Linked DNA regions of Homo sapiens: regions 1 and 2 are each linked to region 3. The links come from fine-mapping of genetic effects on gene expression. A gene starts in region 3. Each other region holds a variant in brackets. All regions are shown on one strand. Distances are from middle to middle. Region 1 overlaps IQGAP1 (IQ motif containing GTPase activating protein 1). Region 2 overlaps IQGAP1 (IQ motif containing GTPase activating protein 1). Region 3 holds the start of IQGAP1 (IQ motif containing GTPase activating protein 1).

Region 1 (6,475 bases), 72 kb before region 3:
AGCTAACAGCAGTTGGTATAAATAGCAGCTCAAAAATTCATTTAGATTGCTCGATGTGAATATAATTTGCCAAGGCATGAATGAGGCAGAATAAAGAACTTAGTAAATCACCATAACTATGTGCCTAAATGAGGCAGGGTCTGAGCTTTGAGGCAAAGTGAAACGTTTCACTGCCCAACAGTTGAAGTCACAAAACCTTAGGGAAGGCTTGGCTTTCCTCCTGTTTTATTAGAGAAAGACACAACATTTCACTCCATATAGTGAAGCAGCCACAATCCCTGCAATTTATAAAGAGTGCAGGTGACAGGATAAGGCCAAAGGAAAGCATCTGAAATTGAAAGCAGTGATTTCTCTTAAATGCAGTCTTTTAGAAAGATCATTTAACCTAATTATGGTAGGTGCTGGCCTTACAATTCTAAGAGGCACTGTCCCAATTTTAAGAAGCTCACAGTCTTGGGAAAGGGAAAGAGTAAACAGATAAATAGAATGCAAGAACAAATAAATCACTTAAAAGCTGCAGAACCTAGTACCTTCCTACCACTAGTCGCTTTCTATTACTGAAAATAGAAAATGACCACACACCATCCCCTAGAGTCCTAAGAATAACTACTGGAAATACTAGACAATAGTTCCAATGTGAGACAATACAATGAGTCAGCTGCAGGCTTGTGACAACTTAAATTGTGAAGTCATAAGCGAGAGGGCTGATGGTCTAGTCTCCAAGAGAAGCAGCAGAAAAATCCTCGTATCATAAAAACAGAAGCATTTCCACAGAATCAAGCCATTTTGGGTTCACTTCTGGGATAATCATACAACAGATATCTGAGCAGAATCTGCTGTAAGCAAAGTTGTGAGACTTAGCACAACCTCCCTTGCATTGAGAAAGGTAGAACCTTTCTAAGCATTCAGAATTCTTTCTTCCCTGCCCCATGCAGATTAAAGTAAAACCTTTCATACATACTCCTTAAGAAATAAGCAATAGAGCAATAGTATGAAAGGCAAGAAAAAGTGAATGGATGGGTGTCTCAGGTGTTTCAGGGAAACATTAATACAGAAAAGCCCCTCACCAGAATGAAGAAGGAAAGAGAGACAGCATACACTACACCTCATCCCAGTGTAAGAAGAAAGAACAGGTTCTTTCTGCTCCAATTAGACTGAATAAAATGACAAAACCCAAATCCTTCTGGTAAAATTTGTTTTAAAGAGATTACCTAAAGATTAACTCAAATGACTGAGCAGAGTGTTAAAGCCCAGGCTAGATATTATGGAGAGAAAACAGATTTGCTGTAAAAATGCTATCTAAGATATATTCAAGCACAGCTCCCTAACAACTCTGACACTTAGAAACACGCTGATTGCATTTCAGAAGAGGTAAAGAGATAGGGACCAGAAGTCAGAATTTAAAAAAAGAGTGGGCAATGATTGGAGGTAGAAGAGGTGAAGAAGCCACAAACACAGGAAAAGGGGGAAGAGGCAAAGGAATGACTATGTTATGTACATGTATATATGGAAAGCACACACTCACACACCCCTCTAAAGGGCACTTCTCATCACTCAAAACTTTTTAAAAAGACTTTACTTACTATGTGGCTTGGTTTGCATGTGTGATGATAGACCCAATATTACATATATAAATATATAACCACATATATACCACATACACACATAAACACACATACACAAATCTGTACAACACGTTTATCAACTACACAACATAAGCACTGACCAATCAGGATGGAGCAGAGTCCTTATGGTCACTGCTGGTTTAGTTGCCATATAGTGGGATTTCAATTAGAGTTGGGGAGTGATGGCAAAGATATGGGAGGGTTGGGACAGTAACAATGTACCAAACAAAATAAAAGAATTTCAATGTCCTAACAACTGGTACAGCTGTGCTGGTGTGAACCAGCTGATTACTAGCTACATGTATATAAGCATGTGTGCATAAGTGCATATACACACATGGAGGTCAGAGAGAGATTTAAGTCATTCTTTTTTTTTGAGACAGAGTCTCGCTCTGTCGCCCAGACTGGAGTGCAGTGGCCCGATCTTGGCTCACTGCAAGCTCCACCTCCTGGGTTCATGCCATTCTCCTGCCTCAGCCTCCCGAGTAGCTGGGACTAAAGGCGCAGGCGCCTACCACCATGCCGGGCTAATTTTTTTTTTTTCTTTTTTTTTTTTTTTTGTGTTTTTAGTAGAGATGGGGTTTCACTGTGTTAGCCAAGATGGTCTTGATCTCCTGACCTCGTGATCCACCTGCCTCAGCCTCCCAAAGTACAAAGATTACAGGTGTAAGCCACCGCACCCAGCCGATTTAAGTCATTCTTATTCTTTCTTCCTTTTTGAGATGCAGCTTCGCTGTCACCCAGGCTGGAGTGCAGTGGTATGATCTCAGCTTACTGCAACCTCCTACTCCCGGGTTCAAGCAATCCTCCTGCCTCAGCCTCCTGAGTAGCTGGGACTACAGGGGTGTACACCACACCTGTATTTTTAGTAGAGATGGAGTTTCGCCATGTCAGCCAGGCTGGTCTCAAACTCCTGACCTCAAGTGATCCGCCTGCCTTGACCTCCCAAAGTGCCGGGATTATAGGCGTAAGCCACCACACACGGCCTAAGTCATTCATATTCTTAATTATAAAATGAGTTCTTGAGGAGCCCTGATATCCATGTCTTGCATTCAGACTGTACTACTCACGACTAGTAATCCACTTTTATCAAGAGTCCCACAAACACTAAATTTAATGAAGAGAAACGTGACATTAGTGAAAATGGTAAAGACCTCTGAAAATCCTCTCCACCATGAAAAACAAACAAACAAAAAACATTGGTACACTGGCAAACAATCACCAGCATCAGTTTTTCTTT[TTTTG/G]AGACGGAGTTTCACTCTTGTCACCCAAGCTGGAGTGCAGTGGTGCTCATTGCAACCTCCACCTCCTGGGTTCAAGTGATTCTCCTGCCTCAGCCTCCTGGGTAGCTGCGATTACAGGTGCCTGCCACCACGCCTGGCTAATTTTTTGTATTTTTAGTAGAGATGGAGTTTCACCATGTTGGCCAGGCTGGTCTCGAACTCCTGACCACAGGTGATCTGCCCACCTGGGACTCCCAAAGTGCTGGGATTACAGGGATGAGGCACTGCGCCCAGCCCTTTTTTTTTTTTTTTTTTTTTTTTAAAGACAGGGTCTTGCTTTGTCACTCAGGCTGGAGTGCAGTGGTGCAATCTTGGCTCACCGCAACCTCAGCCCCCTAGGCCCAAGTGATCCTTCCATCTCAACCTCCCAAGTGCCTGGGACCACAGGTGCACACCACCGTGTCCAGCTAATATTTTTATTTTTCGTTAAGACAGGGTTTTACCATCTTGCCCAGCCTGGTCTCAAATTCCTGGGCTCAAACTATCCACCCGCCTTGGCATCCCAACGTGCTGGGATTACAAGCATGAGCCACTGCACCCGGCCAGTTTTTTCAATACGGTAGAAATTAACCAAAGGCTTGCAGAAATTGGAGAATGCATTCAAGAAAAACAGCTGAAACTCAGTAAGAACAGTGAGTTCTGTGGTGCTTTAAACTCCCCTATTCCAATCTGCCCCTCCTACCATCCCTTCAAAGCCCCATTCCCAAAGAACTGTCATTAGCTGACCTGTTCAGAGGTCACACTCGCATGGCTGTCTTTATTTGACCTGACCAAGAGCTCATCCACTGCAAACAGCCTTTTCTCCAAAAGCAATTGTCAAAAACATTAAGGATAACAGTTTAGGCAAACAAGAGACTAACTAAAAACCTTATAAGGAAAAGCTGGAGAATGAGATGTTCATGGAGAGCTCTGACAACTTGACATATTCCTGGATGGGATCTAGGAGGCCACAGTGCATGTGTGGGCTGTGCACATGCTCAGAAAAGATCTGATAAAGCTCTTGTTTAGCATATCATCATGAAATATAAAATGGGCAACCAGCGGCCCTCAGGGCTGCTCTGTCTATGGAGAAGCCATTCTTTTATTCCTTTACTTTCTTAATAAACTTGCTTCCACTTCACTCTATGGACTCTCTCTGAATTCTTTCTTGTGTGAGATCCAAGAACCATCTCTTGGGGTCTGCATCGGGACCCCTTTCCTACACAGTACTGCAGCTCAAAACAAAACAAAAAATATCCCCCACACAAAAAACTCCGGACCACGTGGCCTCACTGGTGACTTGTAACAAATGTTTAAAGAACTAGCTAATCCTTTACAAACTCTTTGAAAATATAAAAGGAACACTTCAAGTCATGAGGCCAGTATTACCCTGATACCAAAACCAAACACAAAGATATCAGAAGAAAATAAAACTACAGACCAAATTTAAATTAAGATCTTTTGCTCTCTAAATTTGTAACTCAGTGATAAATATTTTTAAAAACACTCCCAAATGGCTGATGGAGACTTAGATGCTCAGGTGATGCCAAAAACAAAAAACAAAACAAAACAAAACAAAAAACCCAAACCAAAAACAAACAAACAAAAAACAATTCCACCCAATGTGTAGTTCACCCAGCTGGGCCTGGCAATGTTAAGCAATTTTTCCTTTAACTCCCCCGACTTCCTCCGCCTTTGATGAAGTCTGAAAAGTTATTCCACAGCAAAGGAAATGCTTCAAACTCTATAGTCACATCCTCAAAAAGTTTTACTCCGATGACCCAAACAAAACGCACACACAGCCTTTTGAATTATTTACACTTTATCTATTCCTGACTTGATAGACATACTGTTTTTTTCCACTGTGGCTATCAGGAATAATGCTACTATGAAGATAAAGTTGTTAAAGTAATTGTAACATAAACTCATCTTTTAAAATGTTTGTCTTACCCGCTACCTAGTTTGCTGAGGAAATTGACAAGGTTTATGCCTCTTTTTATGCTGTTGCTGTCTAGGAAGTTGCCTTGTATGTAGTAGGCCCTCAAATAATTGTTGATTAAAGCATAATTAACATCTGTTTTCTAATTGTGATTGACCTCCTTTTCAGTGCTTACTAAGTAACAACAACTGGATAGAACCATAGCCTTCAGAAGACTCCTGAAGTGAGGCAGCAAGCGGAAGGGCTAAAAGAAATTTTTAATTCTGAGTAGCCAGACGTATAAAAACAGACCAAGGCTTTAGTGTATTGGAGCTTTTTGCACACTGACACTCGTGTGGGCTCTGTAAGTTTTGGTGAAGGGTAGAGGAGTGGGCAATTTTATATGTTGGTAATATTATGATGTTGACTGATCTCCTTTGATTACATTGGCATGGCAGTAGTTGACATTACCATGTCCTAATCATGTAAGTGTAGTATCTGATAGATACTACCAGGTTTCATTTAAGAGATATAATTATGCAGAATGTCACTTGATGCTGTGGAGAGGGTTGAATCACAACTGCTATTTCATAGCCAGGAAATTGAGATCAACTGATTTTACTTACTCGGATAAGAAGTAGTTGGCTCTAGGGAAGCTAGAAATGGAAGTCTCTGTCTTTGATTCATTTTATTAGATTAGTGTTTCCCAAACTTGGCTGGTCATCAGAACAATGAAAAAGTCATTTTTAAAATACAGATTCCTAAGCTTAAAGTCTAATTCTACTGATTCAGAATCTCTAATGTGTCAGGCTGCAATGATTCTATGTATGCTAGTGGTAGTAATGTTTGTTTTTGCTGCTAAGAAAGTCCAAAGGGAGCCTTATATCTGACTGTCAGAGGAGTGGGGTTTCGGAGAATAAGCTAGGTCGGCTTCCATATCTAAAAAGGGAAGTAGATTGAAGATACAACTTATATAGCTGTCACTCATGCTAAGTGTCTATCAAATCACGAATAAAGTGCAAATAATTCATATGTCATCAACTCATGAATGGATAAATAAAATGTGGTAAAGTGGAAATAATCCATGTGTCATCAACTCATGAATAAATAAATAAAATGTGGTACAGTCATACAATGGAATATTATTCAGCAACAAAAAGAAATGAAGTGCTACTGCTACAGCTTGGATAAACTAAGCTAAAAGAAGCCAGTCACAAACGACCATACATTGCATAACTCCATTTATATGAAATGTTCAGAATAGACAAACCCATAGACAAACCAGCAGTCTGATGGTTGCCCAGGGCTGGGGGAGATTAAGGGAAAATGAGTGACTACTAATGGGTACTGAGTTTCTCTTGGGGTGATGAAATGTTCAAAAATTGACTGTGGTGATGACTGCACAATTCTATCAACGTACTAAAGTCCACTGACGCTGAATTACCTGATACGTGAATTACGTTTCAATTAAGTTGTCACAAAAAACCTTCATGACATTATCTATTAAAGCTTCATATATGTGTTCCCTATGGCCATAACTCCTCTCCAAAATGTATACCTAACAGAAATGCACATATATGTTTTTAACCAAAATTAAAAATTCATAGAAGCACTATTTACAGGCCATGGGCAGTGGCTCATGCCTGTAATTCCCAACACTTTGGGAGGCT
Region 2 (6,475 bases), 36 kb before region 3:
ACTGCACTCTAGCCTGGGTGACACAGCAAGTCCCTGTCTCAAAACAAAAACCAACCAACCAACCAACAACAAAAAAAACCCACTGAACATATAAGTCTTTTTGTTTAAGGAAAGTTTCTGTTTATGATGTTAATTTTGGCTGAGTACCTATACCGTTCCTTGTTTTCCCTTGAATTTAAACATAAAACATAAAAATTATCTCTTTGACATTGTAGCCTTACTCATTCTGAGTTTGGGCCCAGTTATTACAGCTGACCACCCTTACATTTGGTCTTGGTAATGCAATTCTCCACTATCTTTCATAGTCATCATTTTTCAAATAAGGATTCACAGGTAACCTCTGTAGACAAGAAAATTTGGTCCTTGTCAACATCCCCATTTTTTTTTTGGGAGACAGAGTCTTGCTCTGTTGCCCAGGCTGGAGTGCAGTGGTGCTATCTCAGCTCACTGTAACCCCCGCCTCCTGGGTTCAAGTGATTCTCCTGCCTCAGCCTCCTGAGTGGCTGGGATTACAGGTGTGCGCCACCAAGCCTGGCTAATTTTTATATTTTTAGTAGAGATGGGGTTTCACCAAGTTGGCCGGGTTTGTCTTGAACTCCTGACCTCAAGTGATCCGCCCGCCTCAACCTCCCAAAGTGCTGGGATTACAGGCATGAACTACTGGGCCTGGCCCAACATTCCAACTTAATTAAGCAGTCAGTCTTCTTTTTTATAGCACCTTGAGATACAGGAATCAAACCCTCTCACTTATCTCAATTTTCTGAAACTGAATCACTTTCCCATTGTACCTTGAACTCCAGCAACGCAGGGTGATGTTTTTTCATGAAGTTACTTTTGCATTCAATTTGCCAACAAATCTCAGTGCTTAAAATTCATTTCTTTTTTTAAGAGACAGGTGGGAGTGCAGTGGCGCAATACTAACTCCCTACAGCCTCAACCTCCTAGGCTCAAGCAATCCTCTTGCCTCAGTCTCCCAAGTAGCCAGGACTACAGCATGTGTGACCATGTCTGGCTAATTTTTTTTTTTGTAAGACAGGGTCTCATTATATTGCCCAGGCTACTCTCAAACTCCTGGTCTTAAGTGATCCTACCACCTTGGCCTTCCAAGTACTGGGATTACAGGTGAGAATCAGTGTGCCCAGCCTAAAATTAGGCTTTCTTTTTTTTTTTTTTTTTGAGATGGAGTCTCACTCTGACACCCAGGGCTGGAGTGCAGTGTCATGATCTCGGCTCACTGCAACCTCTGCCTCCCGGGTTCAAGCGATTCTCCTGCCTCAGCCTCCTGAGTAGCTGGGATTACAGGCATGCACCACCACGCCCGGCTAATTTTTGTATTTTTGGTAGAGACGGGGTTTCACCATGTTGGTCAGGCTGGTCTCGAACTCCTGACCTTGTGATCCGCCCACCTCAGCCTCCCAAAGTACTGGGATTACCGGCGTGAGCCACCGCGCCCGGCCCCAAAACTAGATTTAAAGTGGTAATTCCCCTAGTTATTTCTTCTACCTTCTAAAGAATTAAAAAATTCATCTACAACTAGGAAAATTTCTAGATATATAACATCATAAGAATTCTACCAGAAACAAAGACAGCTAAAGTTCTTTTCCTAGTACATATTTTTTTGTGGGGGGACAGGGTAGGGGGGAGGCGGGCTTTCCAGATAAATTCTAAAAGAGATGTAATAATATTTGCCTAGTACATATTGCCTTTGCACAAATTTCTCCATTCTGCCAGGCATTTTAAAGGCTATAATTTGTTGCAACAAACACACCTTACACAGACTTCTCAATAACTCTTACACAAAATAAAACATGCTAACTTTCTCAAGTTGACAGAAATCTAAGCACAAAGCAAGGAAGGACTCACCTTGTATCTGGTCTGTTCTCGATCATAGATTTTTTTCAGGGACACTACTTTGGGAGAGAAGAAGTTCCCCAGTTTGGCAAGGTAGACCCCATTCCTAAGCCCCTCCTCCAGTTCTGTGGTGGGAGGCAGATCTTCCCCTAGGCATGCTTCCATCCACCTGCACCAAAGGAGAGAGGATGCAAAAAAAGAAAGGGAAGGTCAGAACTTTTCCTTAGAGATTTTAAGCTTTATTTCCATTCTCCTTGGAGAAGCTTAAACTGAACATAATAGCACTCTTTTACAATCAGTTCCACACACATCCTTTCCCTGCCTGGCCCAGTCAGATCTCAGAGGCGGGGAACTTAGGAAAATTCCTGAGCATAAATGCCACTTTCTTCTCCACCCCACTTTCCTCTGCTGCAGCAACACAGCCAGCTGGCTCCCCAGATCCTGACTGCTCCCAGAACCTCAGACCCTTTCCCTCAGTCCTTAAGTTGCTCTTTAACAAATCCTAAGAAAAGCCATTGGTAACTGAAGCCACCATTTCAACTGTTCAGAAGCTTTAATTTGTTGCTGACATTCTCTTCCAGTTGCAGAACTCAGAATCCACAGTGAATTTCTAGGTCCAAGTTTTAAGGTTGCTTGGGGGTTATCAAAACAGACTCAATTATTTCAGCTAAAATATTAAAAGAAACTCCTATGGAAGCAGTAAATAATGAATTCTCAGATTTTTGGAGGCAGGGAGGAGGTTGTAAAAAGGATAGGAAAAGAAAACTATTTTCCAAAAAGAAAAAGAATAAAACAAAGAAAAAAAGAAAACTGTATTTTCCCCTTCAAATATCTCTTAGTACATTTCAAGAAAGCCTAAGATAAAACAAAGGAAAGTTTAGTTACATGTATTTTCTACCAACGGAAACATAGGTAACTAAAGATCATTTATGGCAATGGTTTTTTTTTCCTTTTCTTCTTTTTTCTTTTGAGACAAAGTCTCACTCTATTGCCCAGCCTGGAGTGCAGTGGCATGATCTCAGCTCACTGCAACCTCCGCCTCCCGGGTTCAAGCAATTCTCCTGCCTCAGCTTCCTGAGTAGCTGGGACTCCAGGCATGCACCACCATGCCCAGCTAATTTTTGTATTTTTAGTAGAGACGGGGCTTCGTCATATTGACCAGGCTGGTCTCAAACTCCTGACCTCAAGTGATCCGCCCACCTCAGCCTCCCAAAGTGCTGGGATTACAGGTGTGAGCCACTGGACCCGGACCATGGCAACAGTTTTCAACCACTGAGCCACAGAATCCTGTGAATATCGAAGGAAAGCTATAGAACCTTCCCCTGGAAAAATATACATATACTTAAATTTTACATGTAATTTCAGAGACTTCATTGACTCTAGGAACCCTAGATTTAAAACTCCTAATTTAAAATTATTTCACTCAATTTTTTTTTTTTTAAGTTGGAGTCTCACTCTGTTGCCCAGGCTGGAGTGCAATGGTACAATCTCAGCTCACTACAACCTCTGCCTCCTGGGTTCAAGCAATTCTCCTGCCTCAGCCTCCCGAGTTGCTGGGATTACAGGCCTGTGCCACCACACCTGGCTAATTTTTTGGTATTTTTAGTAGAGATGGGGTTTCACCATATTGGTCAGGCTGGTCTTGAACTCCTGACCTCAGGTGATCCACCCACCTCGGCCTTCCAAAGTGCTGGGATTACAGGCGTAAGCCACCGTTCCCAGCTCAGTCTTGCTTTTAAATCTACTCTACCTTTAAATTAGGCAGCGTACTCTCTAACACATGAAGCCTGATGGGTATA[T/A]GAATGGGCCAGATAATTTTCTGGTTGTTTCCTATACTCGATGATAAGCTTCTCTGCTGTCTTTTCTTTCTTTCAAATAGTAGAACTTAAATTGTCAGAAAGGGGAAAAATGAAACAAATGAGTTTTCCAGAAGAGTTGTCATAATAAATGAGATACCAATTTGAAATGGCTACAAAAATCTAAACTATACCTCTATTCAGCCTAAAGATGCAAAGGGCAATGTGGAAAAGATTGGCAGTTGTCGGTACGGAAAATAGTGTAGTTCAAGGACACATCTCATCTTTTTACTGCTAAAAAGGATGTTGATAAAATCATTCTGGCAAACAACTACTGGCAACTCCAGCTCTCAGGGGACAATCTAACTTGGGTTCTCATTAACAGTGAAAACCTAACAACCTCAGCCTAAGCCAAAAATGGCCCTCAAGCACGTAACAGTACCAAAAAAAAAAAAAGTTACTTATTTTTCTTTTTAAAATGAAGTAAACACACAGGGAAAACTACGGATAAAGAGCACAGTAGATACTTTTGCCTTGAATCAGAGCCAGTTACCAGAGGTATTTAGGTTTTCCTCTTTTCTGAGATTTCTAGACAAAAATAAAAGGAGAGCCCATGGTAACATCTCCCAGCATTCTTTATATTTCCTTTCCCTAGTCCAACTGCTATAAAACAGTCCTGACTTAGATGTTTCCTATAGCTGGGTAGAATGCTCTTTATATAACACAGGTGTCAGGTCAGAGAAGAAAGGCCAACTGTGATTTGGTGAAAGTTATTAAACAGAAAGAATGAGCTAGAATAAACAGGGAGGCAAAATACATTGTTTCTAAACAACTGCTCAAACCTGAAGCTGCCTTCCAAGTCACCTCACCACATATGTGGCTTGCCCACCAATCTGAGCTATTTCACAATGGAGTATCACCTGGTTTGTTTATAAAATAAATCAGGACTAGGTAGGATGCAGTGGCTCACACCTGTAATCCCAGCACTTTGGGAGGCCAAGGCAGGCCGAACACTTGAGGTCAGGAGTTCCAGACCAGCCTGGACAACATGGCGAAACCCCATCTCTACTAAAAATACAAAAATTTGCCAGTGTGGTGGTGTGCACCTATAGTCTCAGATACTTGGGAGGCTAAGACAGGAGGATCACTTTAACCTGGGAGGTAGAAGCTGCAGTGAGTTGAGATGGTGGCACTGCACTCTAACTGGGGTGACAAAGTGAAACCCTGTCACAAACGAACAAATCAGGACCAAACTGCTTTGAAAAGTAAAGTGCCATGTTAACATTTTTAATGTTAGCAGAAGTTTGGATTCTACTCGAATTCCAAGATGACACAACAAACACTTCTTTCAGTCTTTCTCTACAGCTCACATGAGATTTCCCCTTCTTCTACTAAATCACAGAATCAGAAAACCTGAGAGCCAGGAAGCAAATGCACTTCTAGGGAAAATCCCTTTGTTTGTTTTTAATATAATATATATCTAAAAATGGCCAGGCACAGTAGCTCACGCCTGTAATCCCAGCACTTTGGGAGGCCAAGGCAGGAGGATTGCTTGAGCCCAAGAGTTCAGGACCAGCCTGGCAACACAGCCAGACCCTGTCTCTACAAAAAATTTAAAAATTAGCCAGGCGTGGTGGCACATGCCTGTAGTCCTAGCTACTTGAGAGGCTGCAGCAGGAGGACCGTTTGAGCCCAGGAGGTCAAGGCTGCAGTGAGTTATGATCGTGCCACCATACTCCAACCTGGGCAACAGAGCAAAACTCTGTCTCAAAAATTATATATACAAACTCTGTCTCAAAAATTATATATATATATATATATACATATATATATATACATATACATATATATATATACATATATATATATATATGAATGAGACAATTATTAAACATTTCTGAAATGTTTATATTTTCCATGTTATTATATAGTTTCTGAAGACTTTAAGTTTACATAAAAATTTAACCAAGTCCTTAATAAGTCACCTATCTTAGACATTTATGTCATTTCTAAATGTTTTCAACCATTAAATAATAGTGCAAGGAATATCTTTGTGCACGGTGTTCTTCTTTATTTAGAATTAATTCCTTAGTAAAGGTCCTTAGAAGTACAACTCCAAAATTAAAAATATAAACATTGAAAAAGAATCTAACTGGCCACAAGCCTGCTCAGAGGCTAATAATCTATTTGCACTTCCTCCCATTTACAAATAAGAATGAGGCTGATCCAAGGTCATCCAATAGCTAGTGGCAAAGATGGAATAACAAGACTGATTGCTAGGTTTAGAATCCTCCTCACAGTATCACTCTTGCTCTCACTATATCACCTGAAAAGCCAAAAGGGGTTGAGCTCCACAGGCTGTCTAAAAAGGGAAAAATCGCAGAAATACCAAGAAGGAAAAAGGCTGGTATCTCTCCACATTCTGCCTACTTTTTAATAATTAAAGGTATTTTAGCTTAACTAAATCCACCAGTGATTCTCAACTTAGACACAAAACCTTTCTTATAAAACTTAAATATTTAGAACCGGTGCAGTGGTTCACGCCTGTAATCCCAGCACTTTGGGAGGCCAACGCGGGTGGATCACTTGAGGTCAGGAATTGGAGAAAAACCTGGCCAACAGGGTGAGACCCCGTCTCTACAAAAAATACAAAAATTAGCCAAGTGTGGTGGAGTATGCCTGCAATCCCAGCCACTACTTGGAAAACTGAGGCATGAGCTGAGATTGCATCACTGCACTCCAGCCTGGGCAACAGCAGAGCAAGTCTCTGTCTTAAAAGACAAACAAACAAACCTGGCTGAATTCATTCTCCTACTGAATACTGTGTT
Region 3 (6,475 bases):
CACACACTTGTTTATTAGCACCACTTCAAACACCCTTTTTATTAAACGTTAATTACAAATATTTCATTATCCCTCACTTGACTTTTCCACCAAAGCTCACTTATAGAATACATGATCTATAATTACATCTACCCTGGGACTCTGCAAAAGAACACAAGCACCAGAACAAAAGAAATGAATCACTGATAACAAAATGACACTCTAAAATTAAGACCACAAGGTTGTGGGGCATCTGAAAAAGGAAAAGAGCAGCTTTACATTCACTTCACAAAGAATGCAGAGGATGCTGACTCTGAATATTGCCAAACAGATGGACCTACACCAACAGCACCACGCTTCTAAGCCTCCCAAACCAAGCAGCCACTCCGCAGGTCATAGGAGGAGGAGACTCAATTCATATATAAATCAAAATTCATGAAGCATAAGTGAAACATTAAAGCCAATAACTTCAAATCCTAAAAATGCTATTTCCACCCCACAGTTGGTAACGCCCAAAACATGCACAATAAGCATAAGACTGAACAATAGAAACCTGGAAAACCGTTCAGTACACTTAAATGCCCATCACAGTGATTCATGATAAACTCTCATCAAGGCTACTTATTGCCATAAATAAATACCCTACCTATACTTATTCCCTCAACCACCAGCTTCCCAGTTACATCTATAACATACTCAAATAAATCTTTTCTTTTTTTTCCCCCCACCAAAAACAGGAGTTTTGTCACCCAGGCTAGAGCACAGTGGTGAGAGCACGGCTCACTGCTGCCTCGACCTCCCGGACTCAAGTGATCCTCCCTCCTCAGGCTCCCGAGTAGCTAGGACTACTGGCATGCACCACCATGCCTGGCTAATTTTTAAAATTTTTTTGTAGAGATGGGGTGTCACTATGTTGCCCAATCTGGTCTCAAACAGCTGGGTTCAAGTGATTCCCCCCCACCTCGGCCTCCCAACGTGTTGGGATTACAGGCATGGACCACTGTGTTCAGCCTCAAAGCAATCTTTATTTGTATTCACACTATTATCAGTTCCCTTCTCTTAATCTTCTCTCCAGCCAGCCAATCTTTACCTCTTCGCTTCTTCCAAATGACAAAGGTACTCATAAGCCACGTTCTGACGTCTCCTTTCATCCATCTCCTCTGCAGTAAGTCTTTCATTATCCAGGACAGCTACAACATAAAAGAAAGAATGTAAACACCAGGATCTGTAGCCTTCCTGAGTGATAAAAGATTGCCACAGAATCAATTTCCTGCCACTCACCTAGAAAGTCAGGATAACTAATGAGTGTGTAGCCAGCCAGGTGTACTACAATGACTTTCTTAAAAAAAGAACTATGTGGTTTCAACTATAATCATCTTGACCTTTTTAAAAATGTATGATAATATAAATATGTACTAAGTTTCAGTGTAATCTTGAAAAATACTGTCTTGAGATTTTGGCACAAATCTGTCCCTATCTGCCAGAACTCCTTCTAAATACAGATCTGATAATATTGTTTCCCTCTTTTATTAATGACCAAAGCCAGCAGTTATTGAGACATAAGTGGCAGTAATTGTACGAAGCATTTTACACGCATTCTCTCATTGAAACCCCACAACAATCCTGTGATTATCACTCCTATTTTACAGACGAAGAAACTGAGGCTGGGTGAACTCAGCCCCATGGCAAATAAGTGACAGGGCCTGAATCCAAACCTGGAGAGTCTGTCTCCAAAGCCTGAGCTTAACCTTGAAGCAATCTGCTTCCTTCATGGGCACCAGGTGTGGAATAAATTCCTAACTCCTTGGGAAGGCATTCAAGGCCTTTCCCAGTCTGGTCCCAACTATTTTTGGAAACTCTCCTCTTCCCTTCCTCCCACCACTGTGCAGTCTACATCACTCAGTTCCCAACACAGTATCCCTCTACTTTCAATACCTTTGTTTATGCTCTTCCCTCAGGTCCTGTCTCTTGTTCCACATGCCCTATCAAACTTTTTTTTTTTTTTTTTTGAGACAGGGTCTTGTTCTGTCACTCCGGCTCGAGTGCAGTGGCACAATCATGGCTTACTGCAGCCTCGACTTTCTGGGCTCAAATGATCCTCCTACCTCAGCCCCAAGCAGCTGGGACCACAGGCATGGGCCACCACGCCTGGCTAATTTTTTTTTTTTTTTTTAAGAGATGGAGTCTCACTGTGCTGCCCAGGCTGGTCTCAAACTCAAGGCCTCAAACTATCCTCTCACCTCGGACTCCCAAAGTGCTGGGATTACACGCAGGAGTCACTATGCCTGGCCACCTGTCAAACTTTCTACACAGCATTCTTCAAGGCTCTGTTCAAATGTCACCTTCAGGCCAGGTGCAGTGGCTCACACTTTGGGAGGTCGAGGCGTGGGGATCATTTGAGATCAGGAGTTTGAGACCAGCCTGACCAACACAGTGAAACCCTGTCTCTACTAAAAATACAAAAATTAGCCAGTGTGGTGGCCGACGCCTGTACTCGGGAGACTGCAGGAGAATCGCTTGAACCTGGGAGGTGGAGTTTGCAGTGAGCTGAGATTGCACCACTGAACTCCAGGCTGGGCGACCAGAGCAAGACCCCCTGTCTCCAAAAAAAAAAAAAAAAAAGTCACCTCCCGTGCTCATACTGTCTTCCCCAGGCCCCTTCTCCTTACCTACATTACTCTGTATGGCTAGTAAGTTCAGCATCTTTTATCATTATTGCACCTTATAATCATTAGCTTGCACACCTGACTCTCTGATTAAAACGCTCTTTGGAGACAGGGCCTGATCTTACTCATCTTTAATTTCACAAACGTGGCACAATACCTCACGTATAACTGTTGATGCGTGAAATGTTGATCCTTTAAAAAAGAACATTATTCCCACAATATAAAATAAAACCGAAAACCTCAAAATCCCAAAGGGTCCTCCTTTAGCCAATCCTGCCTGCAGTTCAATGACGTCCAGGGCCGACAACAGAAAATGAGGAAGTCAGAGGATTTTCTGCTTCTTTTTTTTTTCTTTATTACTATTTTACTTTTGAAATCTTGAGGAGGGAACTAAGCCCGAGAAAACTGAAGTGACTTGCCCAGGACGGCACCTCGTAGCTAGCCTGGGACCGGACAGGTCTGGACCCTGGTCTATCCCTTGGGTCTACCCCGCAGGCAACACTAGGGCAGCGCCTTTCCACGAAACGGGCAGAGCCCGCGTACCCAGACCCCCAATCCCCGGGACACGCCCTGCGCGGTCATCCTGCCACCTCACTCTAGGCCGTCTTCCCCAATCTCGGCCGAGCCTGGGCGGCGAGAGGCGCTGGGTGGGGCTCCCCCTACCGCGGCCCCAGCTAAGGCGGGAGGCCTCGGGGGTCCTCTCCGCCGCCTCGGACCCCGAGGGGGCGCGAACCAGGGGCCTCCCCGCCCGCCGCCCGCCGCCCCACCGGGACGGCTCTTCCGGGTCCGAGCTGCCGGCAGCCGCCCTGCCCCACCCGCCCGGCCGAGCCCCCAGGAAAATCGCGCCTCGTCTGCAATTAGCCCAGCCCGAAGCCCCCGCGCCGCGGAGCCCCGCACTCACAGCCATAGTGCGGCCGGGCCACGCCCAGCCCGTCAACCTCGTCTGCGGCGGACATGGCGGACGAGCCCGAGTCTCTGCTGAGGAAGCCGTGAAACCTTGGAGGCGCGGACGGCGGTAGCTACAGCTCCTGCCAAGTGCGCGGGCTTGCCGGGGTCCCCGAGGCCCCGCCCCGTGCCGTCAGCCCCACCCCGCAGGCCCCGCCCCAGCGGCACCGCCCCAGCGACACCGCCCTGAGCGGCCGGAAAGAGGCGGGGCCAGAGTCACCGTGCCCCGCCCCTAACTCCGCCCCCTCAGCCCGGCCCCGCCCTGCATCCCGCTATGGTCTCCGTAGGCGGAAGGAAGAAGGTAGAGCCCATCCTCCAATCGGGCTCACGCTGAGCTTGCCCTGCCGGGAATGCCCGCCCAGGTTTATAGCCCCGCCCCCAAGGCCACTGCCCTATCCGCAACTCTAACCGAAAGGCTGCCGGTGTCTGCTGCCTGAAATCAAAATAGTGGGTCATCTCCCTTCTCTTGCCGGCCCAGCTAACCTCTGCACCAATATTTGGAGAAGACACCCTTTGAGGTGACCCAGGTTGTCTTGTTGGACACAAGCAGGCCCCAAACTGCCATGAAAGCCCTCCAACCCCACTCTCCGCAGTTTGGCAACCTGGCCTCAGTCCTCTTAGATTCGGCAGCAGTCACCAGATTACCCAGGTACCCAGGTATTTGAGATGCGGATGCTAAAGCCGAACTCTGTCCAAATTCCCTACCTTTGGATCCCTTGACATTGTTCTTTGCAAGTTCTTTTTAAAATAACTCTTTTCCCGTATCAGGGATGCCTCTGCCCCCTGCACCTTGTGGCTTGCCCTTCAGATATTGGTATTCAACGGTATTCTGTCCGCAGCCCTCTTCTGTTTATTCTTTTTTCTTTTCTTTCTTTCTTTTTTTTTATTTTCTTTTTTTTTTGAGACGGAGTCTCGCTCTGTCGCCCAGGCTGGAGTGCAGTGGCGCGATCCGGGCTCACTGCAAGCTCCGCCTCCCGGGTTCGCGCCATTCTCCTGCCTCAGCCTCCCGAGTAGCTGAGTCTACAGGCACCCGCCACCGCGCCCGGCTAAGTTTTTGTATTTTTAGTAGAGACGGGGTTTCACCGTGTTAGCCAGGATGGTCTCGATCTCCTGACCTCGTGATCCACCCGCCTCGGCCTCCCACAGTGCTGGGATTACAGGCGTGAGCCACCGCGCCCGGCATTTTTTTTTTTTTTTTTTTTTTGAGACGGAGTTTTGCTCAGTCGTTCAGGCTGGAGTGCAGTGGCGCGATCTCGGCTCACTGCAACCTCCGCCTCCCGGGTTCAAGCGACTCTCCCGCCTCAGCCTCCCAAGTAGCTGGGATTATAGGTGCCCGCCACCACGCCCAACTACTTTTTTTGTATTTTTAGTAGAGGCAGGGTTTCACCATGTTGATCAGGCTGGTCTCGAACTCCTGACCTCAGGTAATCCACCCGCTTCTGCTTCCCAAAGTGCTGAGATTACAGGTGTGAGCCACCGCGCCCGGCCCTCTTCCGTTTATTCTTTGCCTACTCAGTAATCTTTTCTACACTCGCCTATAACTGCTGAGGACCCCTCGATATGTATCACCAGACCAGATCGTCTGGAAGTCCCTCAGTATTTTCAGCTAATGAACACTTTCACCTGTGTATAGGGCAGACACTTCAAATCCCACGTGTCAAATACTGACCCTGCTCCTGCTATATTCTCTATTCACAGAAGTACTCAATTCCCAGTGGGAACACCCCAGGCTCCTTGCCTCGCACCCTACATCCAATCTGTGTTTATTTCTGAGATGTCTACTTTTGTCTCCATCCCTGTTGTGATTACACTGTAGTCGCCCTTCTGCCAACTAGATCCTCACAGTTATCAGGGTGTTCTCTCTAAAGTGCAAATGCAATTGTGTTTCTCTTTTTAAATTTTTTTTTCTATTCCTCCCTTCAAGATAATGGGCCAAGTTCAGCATGATTTAGCATGCCAAATCATAGCCTGACTCCAGATGTTTTGCTCCAGCTATTTTCAATGTATTCACTCTTCCTTCAGACTATTAAAGATACTTGAAAACCTGTAAGAACAAAACACCCCTGTAGAAAAGTGGGCAAGGGTTTCATTTATTAAGCCTACAAAGTAAAAAGTTATTTCATTCTTAAGCTTTTAAGTTCACTTTACAAATTGTATTATTCTATTTATAAGTCTAGCACATTTTACCAAACACTTTTCAGAAACTGAATGATTTATTTATTTCGGAGGCGGGGGGGTCACATTTTTATTGGGGGCCACAGGGGACATGGTCTTCTCCATGTCAATGGAAGTGCTTGCAGTTTCTTCAACCACTCCATGCTTGGGCCTTGGGGGTGGCTGGGCATGTCCAGCATGTTCCCATCATCTCGGAGGGGCACTGGGTTGTTGTGGGGCGTGGCCTAGTTGATCCTGGTGGAGTACATGGTATAGGGGCAGACTGGGGTCAGATTTATAGCTAGGCCCCCGATGGTGAGGAACAGGACCAGCACCCGCTCCTTAGGCCAGGCATTCTTGAGAAAGGCAGCCGCAATGGCAACGAGGACATAGAGCATTCTGAAATTTCCTGAAAATTTTTTTTTAAGTCTCACTCAGTTAATTCAACATCTTCAAATATTTAAAATTATGCCTACTAGGGCAGGCACAGTGGCTCACACCTGTAATCCGAGCACTTTGGGAGGTCAAGGTGGGTGGATCACCTTAGGTCAGGAGTTCGAGAGCAGCCTGGCCAACATGGTGAAACCCCCGTCTCTACTAAAATACAAAAAAATTAGCTTAGTATGGTGACACACGCCTGTAGTCCCAGCTACTCGGGAGGCTAAGGCAGGAGAATCACTTGAACCCAGGAGGCAGAGGTTGCAGTGAGCCGAGATTGTGCTCCTGCAATC

The links. PIP is the estimated chance that this variant, and not a neighbour inherited with it, causes the effect. A credible set is the group of variants that fine-mapping cannot tell apart.
Region 1: its variant is the best candidate, but not a certain one, in a credible set for the expression of IQGAP1 in whole blood (INTERVAL, PIP 0.74).
Region 2: its variant is the best candidate, but not a certain one, in a credible set for the expression of IQGAP1 in anterior cingulate cortex (GTEx, PIP 0.58).

What each region holds. Positions count from the first base shown.
Region 1 is chr15:90,457,694-90,464,168 of GRCh38, reverse strand. All of the region lies in intron 15 of IQGAP1 (IQ motif containing GTPase activating protein 1), which reads right to left. Among named protein-coding and RNA genes, the nearest start is that of CRTC3, 69 kb to the left of the region's middle. RefSeq lists an enhancer at 487-576. The variant TTTTG/G (reference allele first, on the strand shown) is at 2,866.
Region 2 is chr15:90,421,655-90,428,129 of GRCh38, reverse strand. It overlaps IQGAP1 (IQ motif containing GTPase activating protein 1), which reads right to left. Exons shown (of 38, transcript NM_003870.4): 3 at 1,864-2,020. Among named protein-coding and RNA genes, the nearest start is that of IQGAP1, 37 kb to the right of the region's middle. The variant T/A (reference allele first, on the strand shown) is at 3,651.
Region 3 is chr15:90,385,468-90,391,942 of GRCh38, reverse strand. It overlaps IQGAP1 (IQ motif containing GTPase activating protein 1), which reads right to left and starts at 3,701. Exons shown (of 38, transcript NM_003870.4): 1 at 3,547-3,701; 2 at 1,070-1,169. The coding sequence starts at 3,601. It also overlaps the pseudogene NDUFA3P4. RefSeq lists a silencer at 3,198-3,977.